3 linked regions of the Homo sapiens genome follow. The protein of the gene in region 3 interacts with the protein of the main gene of each other region in a biochemical or structural test. Each region holds a gene or a part of one and is shown on either strand. Other genes may lie near its edges.

Region 1 (6,752 bases), on a different chromosome or scaffold from region 3:
TGGTGGTGGCCATCAATCCATGGCAGGCCTTGGCTTGCAGCTGAATCCCTCCAGTCTGCCTCTGTCATCACACACTTCCTCGGATGTCTGTGTCTTTGCATGGTGTTGTCCTTGTGTAAGGACACTAGTCATCTAGGATGAGGGCCTGCTCTAATTCGTCTTAACTTGAATATACCTGCAAAGACTCAAATTCTGAATAAGGTCCCACTCACAGGTACAGGATAAGGACTTCAGCATGTCTTTTGGGGGGACATAATTCAACCAGTAACACCTACCGTGTACCACACGCCAAGACTACCAAACGAGGCACAGTCCCCACCTTCGAGGAACCTATAACTAACACTACCATTTAACTGCAATAAGACAGGAGAGGCAGCACACAGGAAAATGATCCTTTCTGTAGGAGCACAAAGGCATTTTAGGAAATGAAATTTGAGGTTTTAAAAGATAAGTAGGAATTCATCAAATAGAAGAAAAAAGATGAAAATAGCAAAAGGTATAAAATAGTATTAATCTTGCAAAAAGACACTGAAGTGTTCTATCTTGATCTTTTTTTTTTTTTTTAATAAGGCAGTTGTCTCTTCTCTGTCACCCAGGCTGGAGTGCAGTGGCACTGTCATAGCTCACTGTAGCCTTGAACTGCCGGGCTCAAGCGATCCTCCCACCTCAGGCTCCCGAGTAGCTAGGACTTCAGGTGTGCGCCACCGTGCCAGGCTTTTTTTTTTTTTTTTTTTTGGAGAGACAGGGTCTCACTTTATTGCCAAAGCTGGTCTTAAACTACTGGACTCAAGCAGTCCTCCCACCTTGGCCTCCCAAAGTGCTGGGATTATAGGCCTGAGCCATCATGCCCAGCCTCTCCCTTTATATGGTAGATCCAGATCTCTGAAACAGTTCTATGTCTGGAACACTTTGTGGAAAGCAAGTTCACGAGTAAGACTAGGGGTCAATACCTATTCAGTCCTCTATTTCACATCCTAAAGCAAAATATATATCTACAGCTTTACCTACAATACAATACAATACAATACAGTAATTGATGTCCATAACGATAAGTCATCCACACTAAATTAGGCTCAGTATACCCTCTAAGTACATTAGGAAGCATGTAATACATTTTTTAGGATCTTTGAAAATGACTTAAATGAATAGTTTTGCTACTGAGGATTAATCTCCATTTTTCTGGAAAATCCAGTTATACAAAACTGCTAATTTCTTTACAGTGCTAGATAACAGCAGCTAATGTTCATTTACTTCTTACTCTGCACAAAGCTGTGTTCTAAGTCCTTGGCAAATGCTCACTCATTTGTGAGCCTCATTTAATCCTCACTCTGATGTACATACTATTGCTATCACCATTTTAAAGGTGAAAAGGCTGAGTCCCAGAGAGATTAAATAACTTGCTTAGCTTTACACATCTAATAAGTGGCAGAGCCAGGACTGAAGCCCAGGCAGTGGTGCTCCAGAGCCCATGCTCCAGACTTCGGTGATACCCTATCTCTGGACTCCTTTAGATACATGAATGGTTATTATCTACATGGCATTTGTGCAGTAACCACTCAGATTTTGTTTAGACAGAGGAATAATCAAAGTGACAGTTGGTAAAAGTCTGATTTCTATCTATTGGTAACATGCTCCATTTCTCAGATGTGGATCTTGGAACCTAAAGAGGTCAATAAGAAGACTCTGCCTATCTTGATGCTTAGAGGTGTTCAGAATTCCTCCCAACAAAGAAATAAGCACACCTTGCTCTCAGTTGATTAAATCAAAAATATTTATTAATCTTCGTGTGCAAGGCACTGTGCTAGGCATTAGAGTTGTAAATAGAAGGCAGAAAGAGCAAGTCTTTAGTTGTAACTAGGGATGGAATGAAATGTACAAACTTCAAAACTGTATTTCCCTTTCAGCTGCTATGGAGGACTTGGGAGATCTTGTCTTGGTAAGAAATATATTTCTATTATTTTTTTAACCGCCAAATAGACAAACTTCTGTTTCCAGACCATATGTTCATTTTGTATTAAAATGGAACCAAGCAAAATATAAGTTTGCTAAGACTCAAAGGATTACTTAAGGCCCTAAACATGGTGTTCCCTGGAAAGCTTGGGTGGGAGTGGGAGGTATTTTCAGCATTGTTCTGGAGGATTCTGGCAAAACATCATTTACAAGTCTTAACACCTGCATTCTTATTTTTTAACATTTTTTGATGTTCTTCCTGTGGAGGTGTTATAATAGAGTAACTTCCAAATAGTTTCCATGGGTAACTATTTATGAATACCAAAGTTAATTACTATATGTTAATTTAAAAAATGTTTTAATGTACTAAGAAAAACAAAAAAGAGTTCGTGAAATGCCACACTGGAGTAGTAGTTATTTTTTTAGTGTTGGATGATATCAAAATTGAAAGCTTTTGTGTTTCAAAGAATACTATCAAAATGACAAGACTACCCATAGAATGGGAAAAAATATTTGCAATCTATATATTTGATAAGGGATTTGTATCCAGAATATAAAAAGAACTCTTACAACTCAGTAATAAAGATAGGCCGGGCGTCGTGGCTCATGCCTGTAATCTCAGCACTTTGGGAGGCCAAGGCAGAAAGATCACCTGAGTTTAGGAGTTTGAGAACAGCATGAGCAACATGGTGAAACCCCATCTCTACAAGAAATACAAAAATTAGCCAGGCATAGTGGTGCATGCCTGTAGTCCCAGCTCCTTGTGGGACTGAGGCTGGAGGACTGCCTGGGCCCAGGAGGTCAAGGCACCAGTGAACCGAGTTTACACCACTGCACTCCAGCCTAGATGACAAAGTGAGATCGTCTCTCTCAAAAGAAAAAATAATAATAATAAACAAACAACATAACTGAAAAATGGGCAAAGTATCCGAATAAACCTTTCTACATGCAAGATACACATATAGTCAGTAAGCACATGAGAAGATGCTCAACATCATCAGTCATCAGGAAATGCAAATCAGAACCACAGTGGATACCACTTGACACCAATTAGGAAGGGTATTATAAAAACATGAAAAATAACAAGTATTGGCAAGGATGTAGAGAAATTCGAACCCTCATACACTGTTGGTGGGAATGTAAAATGGTGCAGCGGCTTTGGAAAATAGTCTAGCAGTAGTTCTTCAAACAAGTAAACATTAACATATGACCCAGCAATTTCACTCCAAAGTATATACCCAAAGACTTGTATACAAATGTTTATAGCAGCATTAATCATAATAGCCAAAAAATGGAAACAGCCTAAATGTCCATCAGTTGACGAACAGATAAACACAATGTGGCATATCTATACAATGGAATATTATTTGATCATAAAAAGGAATTAAATACAGACATATGCTACAATATGTATGAACCCTGAACACATTATGCTAAGAGAAGTCAGACACACACAAAAAAATATTGTATGTTTCCGTTTATGTGATTGCTCAGAATAGGCAGATCTACAGAGACAAAGTACACTAGTGGTTGCCTATGGCAGGGGTTGATGGGGAATAGAGGATGACAGCAAAAGGGTACACTTCTTTCTGAGGTGATGAAGTGCTTTAAAATTGACTGTGGTGATGGTTGCACATATCTGTAAATATACTAAATCACTGAATGGATGAACACTTTAAATGGATGAAAGAATGAAGCCAGTGTTAAACTCTAATTCAACCATACGGTCATTTAAGATCATAATTTAACTGTCAAAAACACACACTAAAAGTCTCAGTCTTTTAATTCATTTGGAACAATTACACCAGTCTTCTGTATCAACAGAAGTCTTATTAAATATAAAATGCTGTACCCTGTCACTAGTTATTTAATAACATATTATTTTTCTGTCATGTTCCATTAGTAGCTGCTTGTCTCCTACTATACCTGTCTGACACAATATCACCAGAGCAAGCCATAGACAGCCTGCGAGACCTAAGAGGATCCGGGGCAATACAGACCATCAAGGTGAGGAGGTGGGCGGTGCTTGCTTGGTTGTGGTTGGGGTCGTTGTTACAAATACAGATTCATGTGTAACCAAAAGGTTACATATGAAAATCCAAAAGGGCAGTGAAATGAAAATCCAAAGCACTCTGTTATTCAAATACCACTTGCTTATGCTTTTAGTTTTTAAAAATTTACAAGTAAATATAATCCAGGTAGTCTAAAAAAGCACACAGGATTTCAAACAAGATAATGAAAATTTGAACTTCCTGGTTTACTTTTCCAGGATCTACCTACTTCTCAGTTTTTGCCCCAGTCCGTTTTGGGAATGGATCCTCTCACCTAGGACAATGAGATGGTTATTGTTAATACAAACTTGGTACGTTCTTGGGTAGATTCTTGGCCAAAAAAAATCTATGGAAGATCTTGTTATATCACCAAAACATTTAATAAAGACAGATGAATGACTATAATACAAAAAATGGAAAGCAGTGCTAATTATCCTTTGCAGTAGATAACTGGGGACATCTTCCACATGTACATTCCCCTAACACTTCAAAACACTGCACTAGCAATGCCAAGGATATTGCATTAATCATGTTACTGAAAAGATTCTGCAGATGTCACTTCATTTTGTAGATCTGTAAAGCTAATGTGCCTTCTTTTCAGAAGCGTGCCCTCTCAGCATTAGAATCCGCTCATCAGAGGAGTGGGCACCAAAGAATCCTGGCTGTTAGGCAGCTCCCTAGACTTGAGAGCCCATCTTCCCAGGGTTGGAGGTCTAATCCAGTGTCATTAACAGTGAATTATCATAATTACTGATAAATTCACCAAGCAACCTGATTCTTAGGGCTTAAATAAGGTCATTAACGGGACAATCCATACAAGATCCACTCCACTGTACAGGTCTGAAACAGACAACTCTCTTTATGTTAAAAATCAAACGATGCGGCCAGGCGCGGTGGCTCATGCCTATATCCTAGCACTTTGGGAGGCTGAGCTGGGTGGATCACTTAAGGCCAGGAGTTGGAGACCAGCCTGGCCAACATAACGAAACCTTGTCCCTACTAAAAATACAAAAATTAGCCAGGGTGGTTATGTGTGCCTGTAGTCCCAGCTACTTGGGAGCCTGAGGCACAAAAATCACTTGAACCTGGGAGGCAGAGGTTGCAGTGAACCGAGATCACACCACTGCACTCCAGCCTGGGCGACAAAGTGAGACCCTGTCTCAAAAAAAAAAAAAAATCAAATGATGCTTCAAATCCAAAAAGTTCACCTCTCTTCTCTTGAAAACAAACTACATGGCCATGGCCAGATGTATATATGAATATCCATATGTTTTACATCTTTAACATTGCAGATAATTAAGTCCATATTACTACAGACTCAGTTTATCACCTCAGCATTCTGTGGCAAACAGGCTTGCTGGTGTTAGCAATGCAGTTTCCACATCTCAATAAGGATATGAAATGAGATGATTGGCAGAGTAAGAATATCTTTTGGGAGGCTATTAAAACTCCAAATAAATTATTTAAAGCTTTTATTTTGCTTATCTGCTGAGATTAGCAATACAGTTTGTTTTTAAAAAATATTGTCTATGAAAATTATCCCTAGTGCATTATGTCATCACAAAAAAGCAGAAGACTAGGGCTTCTATAAATTGAGAAATGGATTTTGTTAAATATACCAGTTACTTGCTACAGAAAGTGCTCTGTCCTTCTTACCAGGGGGGAAAAATGTTAGCAAAAATAATGCCATTATGTACTGTTTTAATCTTATTTGGTCCTGTAAGTAAAGAGAGAAAGAATTTTAGACTTAAAACATATCCATCTACATTTCATTTCACCTTCTGATTTTTAGAGACTTGTAGAACAATAGTTTTTCACACTATATGGCTTTACTAAAAGATAAAACTTCCCCATGATGCAAATGCTTCCTTACCCAAAAAGATGTAGAATTGTGCTTAGCAAGTATTTTTTTTTATTCCTGATACCTGCTAATATTGTGCCCACACTGATAACTAGTTTTCTACAGTGTATTCCAATGTATCTTTACTTTTTTCAGCAATACAATTATCTTCATGAGTTTCGGGACAAATTAGCTGCACATCTATCATCAAGAGATTCACAATCAAGATCTGTATCAAGATAAAGGAATTCAAATAGCATATATATGACCATGTCTGAAATGTCAGTTCTCTAGCATAATTTGTATTGAAATGAAACCACCAGTGTTATCAACTTGAATGTAAATGTACATGTGCAGATATTCCTAAAGTTTTATTGACAAAACTCGTTGTGTCTCTTTCATTTCTTATAGGAATAGGAAAATTGGGATAGGAAAATTGGTATGCAATTTTCCTTTTAGAAATGAATTGGTTGTTCTGGTATATTCTACCTGGAGGTAATGCTGAAAACATGCATTTGGAAAAATATTTGAATGCCTATTTTTAATACTTAGTACTGCACTTTTACTTCATTTTACTGTTTGTAACCACTGGGTAGCATATGACAAAGTAGTAAGTATGAGAATTGGTATGAGTGCCCAAACTTACTTTTAAATGATGTCCCCCTCCCTCTCTATTCCTCCCAAAACTTCTTCCGCTTTTTACTTCATAGACCTCCGGAATTGAAAAGGATCCTGTGAGTCTTCCACTCGCCCCCTCCCAGTACTGGATCAGCCCCAAGGGTGTTTATTCACTATGGGCTGGAACATTTTCAGAGACAAGGAATTCACTGGTTCAGACAGCTGCTCCACCTTTTGTCCGCCCTAGGAACTACACGGAATGAGCTTAATCCTTTCACATTTATTTCATAAAG
Region 2 (3,404 bases), on a different chromosome or scaffold from region 3:
CTGGCATGCCAGTTGACTATTATTAGCTGTCATAAGTAACTCAGCCATTTGGAAGCATTTCCTGGACAAAATTACATTATACCTGTGAAGAAAAATATAGAAGCTTTCAAGCTGTCATTCTGTTTTGGCCCTGTGTGAATTTGGTATATTAAATTGACGCTTGCTTTTTTTTTCAGTAGAGTTTTCTTTTTAATCAATCAAACGCCTACATTTCTGGAAGAAAAAGTCCAATTAGATCATTACACCTTAACTAAGAAGGCAAATCTTATAAATTTTGCTTGAATTGTTCTTACTCAAAACTACCTTAGAATATGGTATCTTATGAAAATATAATATTCTTAAAATTTTGGAGGATAAAATGAAAAGGGTATAAACTTCAATTAGAACTTTAATCCTAAAATATTGTTATTCTTGTATTTTTGGAGTTTTCCGTCCCTTACAATTTCTCCAAATTGGTCTATTCCCCAAGATATCCACTGTTTTCTACAGATTTTAGAATATAAAATTAAACATATCAACCTAAAATCTAGCTATGAATGTTATTTCAAGAGTTTTATATTTTTAATTGGCTTTTTAAAAATATGTAATTCCAATATTATAGTGAATGTTCAGTAACTTTTGTTGAAAGATAATGTGGTTTAGGCTTGCTAAAGAAAGGCTTGCTAGAATACTAAATTTACCTTGTTATTTGGAAAGAGAATCTGCTCCTATAACGTTTTAAAAATCCCCAAAGTCCCAGAGATTAGCACTTGCTATGGATTTTGGAACTATGGTTCAAGTCTAAGACAACCAATATGAATAAGTTCAATGGAGAAGGAAGAAGTAGCATTCAGCACAAGAAACTGTAGATTGTTTCTCCCACTTGTTACTGCATCTTTGTTCATTTCACCCATAGCATTGCATTTGATGTCTGAAGTAATTACCACAAAATAAAGGTAAACTACATCTTCCAAGATGTACCAACAGAAAACATTCGTCTAATTTTGTCAACATTGAATTTTTAGGATTTAAATCTTGTCTTAATGAAGACTCTAGGGCTAAAATTCATGGTCAGTTCCATAAAATGCATCTCACTTTATTTCTGAATTTTTCACAACCCCTCTATTTTCTTACATTAAAGAACATCTGGATAAGTTAGAATAGTGCCAACTTGTTTGATTTGTTATATGATTTTCTTGTTAATGTGTTGAGTATGGGAAATAAGGGCTTTCTGTGTGTCTTGACTCACAGGAAAACTGAAACTGCCAAGGGAAGCAACATTAAAACAACTGGGATAGATTGAATACATTTGAAAAAATAATTTCTGGAAAAACGCTATACATGCTTTTTATGTTTATATCTTCTTTCTTATTAAGACATGAATCAGATCCATGTGGCATTCAAAACAAATTTATTTTGGTTATATTCTTTACAAGTCATAATTTTTACCTAAAATTGTGGAATATGCATGTGAATTACACATGTGTAGTAATAAACTCAACTATTGAATTTTTCCTGTTTCATTTCTAAATGACTGAACTGATGGTAAACAAATTTAATGAAGTCAGCTACCATGTTGAAAATAAGGATATTAGAACTGATTTCATACAATAGAGGTGATCTGTGCATTATCCATAACAACGTTTTCTTTCACTATAGGACCACAGACAAATATTTATGTAAATAGGTATTTTTGTGTGATATTTTGTGGTACATATAACTTTTTTTAGTGTTTCACAGCATTATTATTTCATTTTATTTGTATTGAATAATGTTTTTAGGTCCAAGTAGACTTGAATTAATGTCATAATTGTCAGTATTATTGAAAATTATGTCAACTGTACTGTTATTCATCTGTCCCATAGTTTAGAACATGACCTGGCTATCTGGCATTGTTGCAAGTGCCTTAAATTCATGGCATCCTATTAAAAAAACAAATTTGGTGTTATGCTGCATGACAAAGACAAACACACCTCAAAATGTTGTCCTTTCTTAGCTTGCTGCGTTTTACAGTTCTTTCTGCTAACAATTTATAAGCCTTTATTATATAATATTGATGAATTACAGAAATGATGAAGTTGTTCTCTTATTTCTGTTAAATGTACCAGAGCTGTGTATCTGTTAATGAGATACAGCGTCATTTCTGTGAAATGTATAAATGTATGTGCAGGTCAAATTAATATATGACATTCTATCAGTCTGTATACAGGTATTCCTGTTTTGCTAAGCTGTGCAGATTCTGTAAAAATAAATTAGTGCAGTCAAGTTCTAACATATCTCATTTTATAGACTCCATTGACAATGGTCCAACCGAAAAGAAAAATTGGAAATGACTGCTAACCAGACCTCGTTATGAAACCAATGATGAAAAAGTCACTTGGTGCACCTCTCAACAAAACAGGATGCTTTTTCCGAGTTCTTGTATATGCAAATCATTTACGAGGCAAGTTTTCAACAGACCTAGAAAGCAAAACATTGAAAGTGTGTTGTTAGCCCTCCTCTCTGCCCCTGAATCAACAGACAGAGCTCTGGGACCTTGGCAATGACTCAGAGGTTGGGGCTTTCTGAGTAAAGGGACATTTCTTTAAGCATCATCTATCAAATTTATTTCAATGTATGATGTTTTTACAACTGGTCAGTTCTTTTGTATTCTTACAGCTATGGTTATTTGATTGTCCTCTTACAATTTGTTCTACATGAAAGAGTTCTTTGTTAGTCAGAATGCAACAAACTGTCATCAAATGGTCATTGACCACTTGCACTCTTTTGATGTAGATTAAAAACTTTTTCATAAATTTACCTGCTTTGATTTGCTCTGTATTTTTCCTGCAGCTGTAATTGCTGAGTGCCTGTTGTATACTTTATAGAGTTGAAATAAAAAAATAATTACTTTTGAACTTAGTTGATGTTTAATTCCAGACAAGATTCCAAGAATAGAATTGGTATATCATACTAGATGAAATACCAGGTAGTGCTGTTGTAGAATGTCACTATAACAAAGTAGGAAATACCTATAATCCAAGCATCCCTCATGAAATAATATACTATATTATAATCTAATATAAAACTAATCCAACAAATTGGTTTTAAAGAATTCATAGGAATAATGTTGGGCCATCCAGTGTGAAAAGCAAAGTGAATATAGATATTCACACAAACTCAGAAATTAGCAGATTTCTGAGCATGACCACCACACAGTCCTTTTTTGGGCTATCCCTAGTCAAACTCTGTACTAGGCAAAACAATCAAAGGGACAATTCTTGTATATTACTACATCCTAGGAGGAAATGATTTCATATGAAAAGCAACTTCATGAGTCTTTGTCCAAGGATTTTTCACCTGATTCCTTGGCTTCATCATATGCACAAAGAAGAAACATTTGGGGAACAATATGATTACAACAAATTCAACTCTCCAAAGCCTAG
Region 3 (7,040 bases):
GATAAGTAGTAGTCGTGGAAGATGTTTGAACAATGCCATGAGAGGATTATTCTTTATAGAATATTATTCTGACAGCAGTGTACAGATTTGAAGATGAGAGGCTTATTGAGAAAAGGTTTATTAGAAAGTCATTGAAGTTGCCCACAATGATAAGAATATGAACTAGAGAAGTGACTCTGGGCTTATAAAGGAGAGGAGATTTAGAGACTTGACCTCTAATTTATGGATGGAGGAAAATGACAGAGAAGGTCTAACATAATTGTGAAGTTTGAAACATAGGAGATTGAAGAGATATACTTAGTGCCATTAACAGAATTAGGGAACTGAAGAAGAGATGGTTTGGAAGTAAAGGTGTTTTATTTTAGACATACTGAGTTTCAAGTTTTCAGTTATAGTTCTAGATTGTCCACTCTAGAATAGTGTGGTAGAATTTTACCTAGAATAGACAGGTAAAATTAGGACTGGAAATTTAGGAGACTGGACTGGAGAATAACACATTTGAGAATAAGCTGACTACAATTAATATTTAGCCTGAGGAAGTAAAGACCCTCCTCCTAACCCCCCAGGAGAAGAAAGTAGAAAGAGAATATGAGAGATCCAAGAGCAGGCTCTGGAAGGGCTAGCACAAGGAAAGTTGTACACACACACACACACAAACACACACAGCCTGTATAAGGAACGTTACACACACACACACACACACACACACACACGCACACACAGAGTCAGTCAAGAAAAGGAATGGTCAGAGTAAAAAGAAAAAGAAGGTGAAGATAGTGTCCAGTAAAAAAAGCCAAAGAAGAGAGTTTAATGGAGGAGGAGGTATAGTTAAGTATTTCAGGAAGGGTTTATTTATATATCAAGTAAAATTAAAAGGTGCTTTTAGACATATAAAGCAGTACTTAAATCCAAGTTCATGTTGGGCAGAGTGGAGGTATATCAGCCATTACAGTGTAACAAATGCCCATTTCAAAATTGATAGATAGTACTGCCTCGTTTTTCTCAACTCTAAAATAACAGTAATAGTAGTATTTCATTGGGTAATTATAAGGTTGAAACAGGATAACCCATGTGAAGCACTTAGCTGAGGGTCACACACTAGTAAATATTTGTTAAATGTTAGCTTCATTTATAACAATAAATGTTAGCTTCATTTATAACAATAAATGTTATCTGACTGACTGACTCTGGCTGTTTTATAATGGGGGAAAAAACGTTTGTTTCCAGGTTTTTTGTTTGTTTTTTTGTTTCTGTTTTTTGAGGAGGTGGGAGACCTAATGTGGGTGTTGGCAAACTATGGCTGGTGGGCCAAACCTAGCCCATTACCTGTTTTTGTATAGCAAACTGGTTGGAGAAAAAAAATAAAAAAAAGTCATTGTCCCTAAAGTTTTATTGGTTACAGCCACACTCAATCATTTGTGTATTAATATTATCTGTGTTCCACAAAGCCTAGCATTTACAGTGTAGCCCTGTAAACTCACCAATCAATAAGCAGCTGTCTCAGTACCTATCATATTGCACAGAATATTAGAGTTCGCAAACTTTCTTGGTCATTGGAGCCCCTAGTGTTTGGTAGGATTTTTTCACAGTGCCACTGGCAAAAGGAATTGCCTGTTTGTCTCATTAAGTAGTTTGATGGAAATGTGATCAAAATGGCAGTTTGTGCAGTGTCTATGAGATGTCACTGTGCTTCTCTCAAAACTTTAAAATATTCTACAGAGCCCCCGTGATTTTGTTGTGACACTCTGGAGCACTTTGGTGCACATTTTAGGAACTGAGGAATGCTTAGACACTATTGATAGCAATTCATTACTGGAAGTACCAGAGGTATATCTTTATAACAGTTTTGTCCATGAAGTGGCCCTCAAGCATCATCATGGGGGCTTTAACAAGCCCTGTTAACCTGCTAATTATAGCAAATGTTGGCAATAGATATGAAAGAAATGATTTTTAAAAAATTATTAATACCCTATGCTTGTGGCAACTAGTTAGTTGCTGTATTCACCAATCTATATAGTTAACTGTGGTTGAGTATAGAATTTCTAGAAGTGAAGTTGATGAAGTGATCTAAAGATAACAGAGGTTGCATTTTTAGGGTTGTTGGAAAGCCCTTAAAATAGCATAAATATTTGTACATAAAATTAGTTTTTATTATAGTTGAAATAGTTAATGTTTGGTGGGGAAATCAGTAAATTTAAGGCTGTGATGTTAAAAAAAAAAGTATTATAATTGGAAAAATATCAGTTACTAGTTTTTGTTGATTATATTGGACACAAAATTTTTTAACCAGAGTATATACATGGATTAAAAACAAAATTCATGTGCAGTAGTTTGTTCAGTCACATGCTATATTATCTACTCTGTATGCCTTTTAATTGCTTTAGAAGTTTATTAGATTTTTTTCAGATTATCTCATGCTAAAATTAGAACTTGTTCCCAGTGACTTTTAAAGATTGGATCATTACCCAATTATTGGGGTTAATTATAAAATTATTTTCAAATGAAGAAAATATTTTTTGTTCATAACTTCCCTTTTCTGTTTTCATGCTTTCAATCTTTGTCTCTTTACCTGTCTTATTTTAATTGGCTTTAGTATGATTTCATTGCTCCTATCATGCCTGTGGTGGAATCAGTAGATCCTGCATCATGGAGGCAGGGCTTGCGCAAAACTGGCATTGTTCTTGTGCCCAGTAAGGGTGAAAAATCTATGGTGAGGCATTTCTATGTGCAAGAATTTATATTAGGTTACAACATAACAAGTTTAATATAAATTGGTTCCAAAGATGCATGGTTTTAAGTCCTTATGGTGTGCTCATTTCTGTTTTCTGTATTTGCATCATAATTTTTCTGTGTGATATAAAGTGTGTAGTGTGTTTTCTTAAGTCTAACCCCTAGGAAGGTAGTCTATTTCTTTAAAATTTTTAGATCTTTACATTTTTTACTAAGACATTAACCTATGTAGTAAAAGTGTTTTATCCTGAAACTGTAAACCATAATTTTAAATATATTATCTGTAAACTTATTGTTTCCAATTTAAGGACTGATCAGCTTTACAAATTCTTTTTTCTTTTCCTAAAAAATAAAATAAACACAGTTTCCAACCACAGCTACAAAAATTTCTCCCAAAGAAGAAGAGAGAAAAGATGAGTCTCCTGCAACTTGGAGGTTAGGACTTAGAAAGACGGGCAGCTATGGTGCACTTGCTGAAATCACAGCATCTAAAGAGGGTCAGAAAGAAAAAGATACTGCAGGTGTTACACGTTCAGCTTCAAGTCCCAGACTTTCCTCCTCTTTGGATAATAAAGAAAAGGTAATCTATTTCACAGTCTGGTTTCTATGAAAACTGTTATGATTTCTTTTCCAGGAACATCAAATCTGGTAGATTTTCTGCTAGTTATCTTTAGATCTAGGTATCAAGTTAATTAACCTTAATGAATTACATAAGACAAATGTAATTTATACAGAATTATAAATACTGGAAAGATCAGATGTATTTGCCTAAAACATAAATTATGGGACTATACTCCGTTAAAGGAATCTATTACCTTACTTGAGAATTTATAATAGAACTGTATTAAGGAGCAGGCTTATTTTGTTTATTATGATTCAAGAAACTTTCTGAAGTTTAAAAAACATAGGAACACATTTATTCTAGAATGTTAGTATACTCATAAGTTACATTTATTCAGTATCTGAAAAAAAATACCAGATTTTTCATCTACCATATTACAAGCAACTTTGTCTTAATGAGTAAATTTAATAACTATTTTGAGAGGTGGTATTAATACTGCATTATATAGGATGTACCACAGTTTATTCAATACTAGTATTTATTTCTACAGCATATTCAGTGCTTGAACTATTTTTTTTGCCCATACAGTTTTCTTTCTATACTTAGAAATGTTTCCTTATATCAGAAATTCAGATGAAATTTCTCATCAAGTAATTCTAATATTTTTGCTTTTTTATCAGTTTACTGTGCAGTTGGTTTCCAGGTATTTTATGCCAGCTTACTAGGAATGTATCAGAGTGTCATTGTCACTACACACTCTTAGCCATATTTGGATAAATATAATTTAAATAATATTTGTTTTGACTATTTTGATGTATTTGAGAGCATTGATTATCAAGGTTCTAAATAGCTTATATAATATAAATGCTTGAGACCTCTCAGTGAACAATATTTGAAAGTTTATTTCTCTGGAAGAAATAAAGATATTTCAGCTTATGACACAGTATTAATCTGTTAGAGAAGTTTTAGAAAAAGTCATTAAAATCTGGAGAAATTTTTTTCCTTTCTTAGTAAAATATTATCTGATTCCAGGCTAAAAGAGAAAGAAAACTAATTTGAACAGGCTGATTATTGATTGACATTAATTTTAGAGTTCAGCTAGGAATTGTTGAAATACTGTAAACTATGATAGCTATGTAATTATAATTATTGAATAACCTTTTCTTAATACTTTTAGCATTGCCTATAGTCAGTACCCAAATTAATTTTTACTTATTTTTTTCCCTGTTGTGTAGGAGAAAGATAGTAAAGGAACTAGGCTTGCATATGTTGCACCTACAATACCAAGACGACTAGCCAGTACATCTGACATTGAAGAGAAAGAAAACAGGTGAGTTTATTTTGATTTGCTTTATGCATTCACTATAAAATCTTTATTATCTAGCATTAGAGTTAATACATGAGCATTGTAATTATGTGCGGATATGTATTGTGGGAAGAGATGGAGGATATTCCTGAAGGAGAAAATACCAGGTACATAGTCCTGAGGAGGTGCAGGCTTGGTATGTTCATGAAATAATAGCAAAGAAGATGTGGCTGGAACAGAGTAAGGGGAAAGTGGGAGGAGATAAGGTCATGAACTAGTATGAGTTCTCTAAATATTTGGAACATTTAGGAAAGGGGAAAGAAGAAGGAAAGCCCTTACTTAATCATTTTAGTTTGTTTTAAATATTTTTGTTTAAATATTGTTTAAATATTTTAGTTTCTTCCTGTTTTTCAGCTTATAGAATTTTATTTTTTTAATTTAATTATTTTTATTTTTATTTTTATTTTTTTTGAGACAGAGTCTCGCTCTGTCACCCACGCTGGAGTGCAGTGGCGCAATCTCGGCTCACTGCAACCTCCACCTCTCAGGTTCAAGTAGTTCTCTGCCTCAGCCTCTCAAGTGGCTGGGATTACAGGCACCTGCCACCCTGCTCAGCTAATTTTTTTATTTTTAGTAGAGACAGGGTTTCACCATCTTGGCCAGGCTGGTCTTGAACTCTTGACCTTGTGATCCACCTGTCTCGGCCTCTCAAAGTGCTGGGTTACAGGTGTGAACCACTGCACCCGGCCAATAACTTTTTAATATACTTTTAATCATGTTATAATATCTAATTTTTTTATTTTTTTCCCCTAAGATCTCATAAGCAGTCTTCTATGTTAATATATATTTTTAATAAGCATTTTTTTTGTCGGCACATAACATACTATAAAGTAGATCTTCTGCGGTTAAAGTAAGCATCTCCCCTACTTTATATTTTGTGATCAAAAAGCATATTTCTATAAATATCTGAATTTTCCCCCATACTTAGGGGAAAAATTATACCTTAGGGTATATAATCTTAGTACTGAAATTACTTTATCTTCTTGATTAGTATTCCTAAGTGTCCTCCCAAAGGTTTTTACTAGTTTCAGCTTATACTAATATTTACTAGTGTACCGCTTTCTTAATCCTATTTTAAAATTATGTACCAGAATCTGAAGGGTGTTCTTTTAACAGAGATTCTTCAAGTTTGCGAACAAGTAGTTCATATACAAGGAGAAAATGGGAAGATGATCTTAAAAAAAATAGCTCAGTTAATGAAGGATCAACGTATCATAAAAGGTAATAATACTATTCTTAAGCGGTTTTTATGTATTCATTTATAAAAATATGAGGCAATTTGTTTGGAGCCCTCAGTTTAACATCATTTTAAACAAATATGTGTTTTTATTAAATACGAGTTTTTGTTGTTTAAAACTTACTCTAAACACAGGATATATATTTAAAGATAGGTGATAATTTGTTATGCCTATTATATAATTAAGCTTCAAATATTATGAAATGTTTTTTGGATTGTTACATATTTAAAAGGAACTCCTTTAGAAGGAACTCCTTGACTAGAACAACTTAAACAGGCCAGTGTCTTAATGGATCTAGTTGTCATTGTTGATCTGGAAAGATTTGGCTTGCCCTAGAACTCAGAGCTATGGAAATGCCTTCAGTTGGAATGTTGGTAGTATCATATTGAAGAGGAAAAAAAAGCCCTATAAACAATTTCTTTACTAAAAGCAACCAAAAAGAATAAGATGTGAACAAGTATCATGTAGGCATTGGTTACTTCCGAGGTATCTGACCCATTGCTGAAATAATTTCCTTCAAAAAAATGTCAACGTCTTGTTTTCCCTGGGTAATACAAAACCAAAGTGTGTTTTTCAGGCTCAGCCTGGCATGACCATATGGTGTGGAATAGTTTCAAAAATATGAAATATCAGATCATCTTTGTCTTGTTGAGAAAGTTGGGAGGAGGCACTAAAATGATACACTACCGAATTAAGTGAAATCTTCTAAACTCTAGCAAGTTGTAGATGCAACTCTTGGTGCTGGAGCTGGTGGTGTATTTAGGAACACAGTTTTTAAATTTTTTTTCTAGCCTTGTAATTTATATAATGTATAGACATTAACTATAGAATACACATACAAACACATCCTATATAGATATGACTCTTTTGTTTAGTTGCTCCTTTGGTAGAAGACAAGATGATTTGATTAGTTCTAGTGTTCCAAGCACCACATCAACACCAACAGTTACCTCTGCAGCTGGGCTTCAGAAAAGCCTGCTTTCCAGCACAAGCACTACTACAAAGATTACAACGGGTTCTTCCTCAGCAGGCACACAAAGCAGGTAAGTCACAGATACATTTTGTGCTCAGGTCTACTGTGTGCTTATGTATGTGCATGCGTTTTTGTTTAGAAGATTGTGGGGCTCTGGATTTTTTCATTTAT

What was found.
Region 1: of the proteins of PPP1R12A (region 3) and CDKN3, one has a biochemical effect on the other in vitro, tested with the Homo sapiens proteins (one study listed by BioGRID).
Region 2: the proteins of PPP1R12A (region 3) and PRKG1 form a complex in vitro, tested with the Homo sapiens proteins (one study listed by BioGRID).

Annotation. Positions count from the first base shown.
Region 1 is NC_000014.9:54,413,995-54,420,746, forward strand, and holds the end of CDKN3 (cyclin-dependent kinase inhibitor 3), read left to right. Parts: intron 1-1,904; coding exon 1,905-1,936; intron 1,937-3,853; coding exon 3,854-3,957; intron 3,958-4,219; coding exon of another isoform or gene 4,220-4,279; exon of another isoform or gene 4,280-4,312; intron 4,313-5,997; coding exon 5,998-6,084; 3' UTR 6,085-6,224; downstream 6,225-6,752. UniProt on the Homo sapiens protein: May play a role in cell cycle regulation. Dual specificity CC phosphatase active toward substrates containing either phosphotyrosine or phosphoserine residues. Dephosphorylates CDK2 at 'Thr-160' in a cyclin-dependent manner.
Region 2 is NC_000010.11:52,295,475-52,298,878, forward strand, and holds the end of PRKG1 (cGMP-dependent protein kinase 1), read left to right. Parts: 3' UTR 1-2,876; downstream 2,877-3,404. UniProt on the Homo sapiens protein: Serine/threonine protein kinase that acts as a key mediator of the nitric oxide (NO)/cGMP signaling pathway. GMP binding activates PRKG1, which phosphorylates serines and threonines on many cellular proteins.
Region 3 is NC_000012.12:79,806,065-79,813,104, reverse strand, and holds part of PPP1R12A (protein phosphatase 1 regulatory subunit 12A), read left to right. Parts: intron 1-3,094; coding exon 3,095-3,310; intron 3,311-4,527; coding exon 4,528-4,622; intron 4,623-5,774; coding exon 5,775-5,879; intron 5,880-6,771; coding exon 6,772-6,939; intron 6,940-7,040. UniProt on the Homo sapiens protein: Key regulator of protein phosphatase 1C (PPP1C). Mediates binding to myosin. As part of the PPP1C complex, involved in dephosphorylation of PLK1. Capable of inhibiting HIF1AN-dependent suppression of HIF1A activity.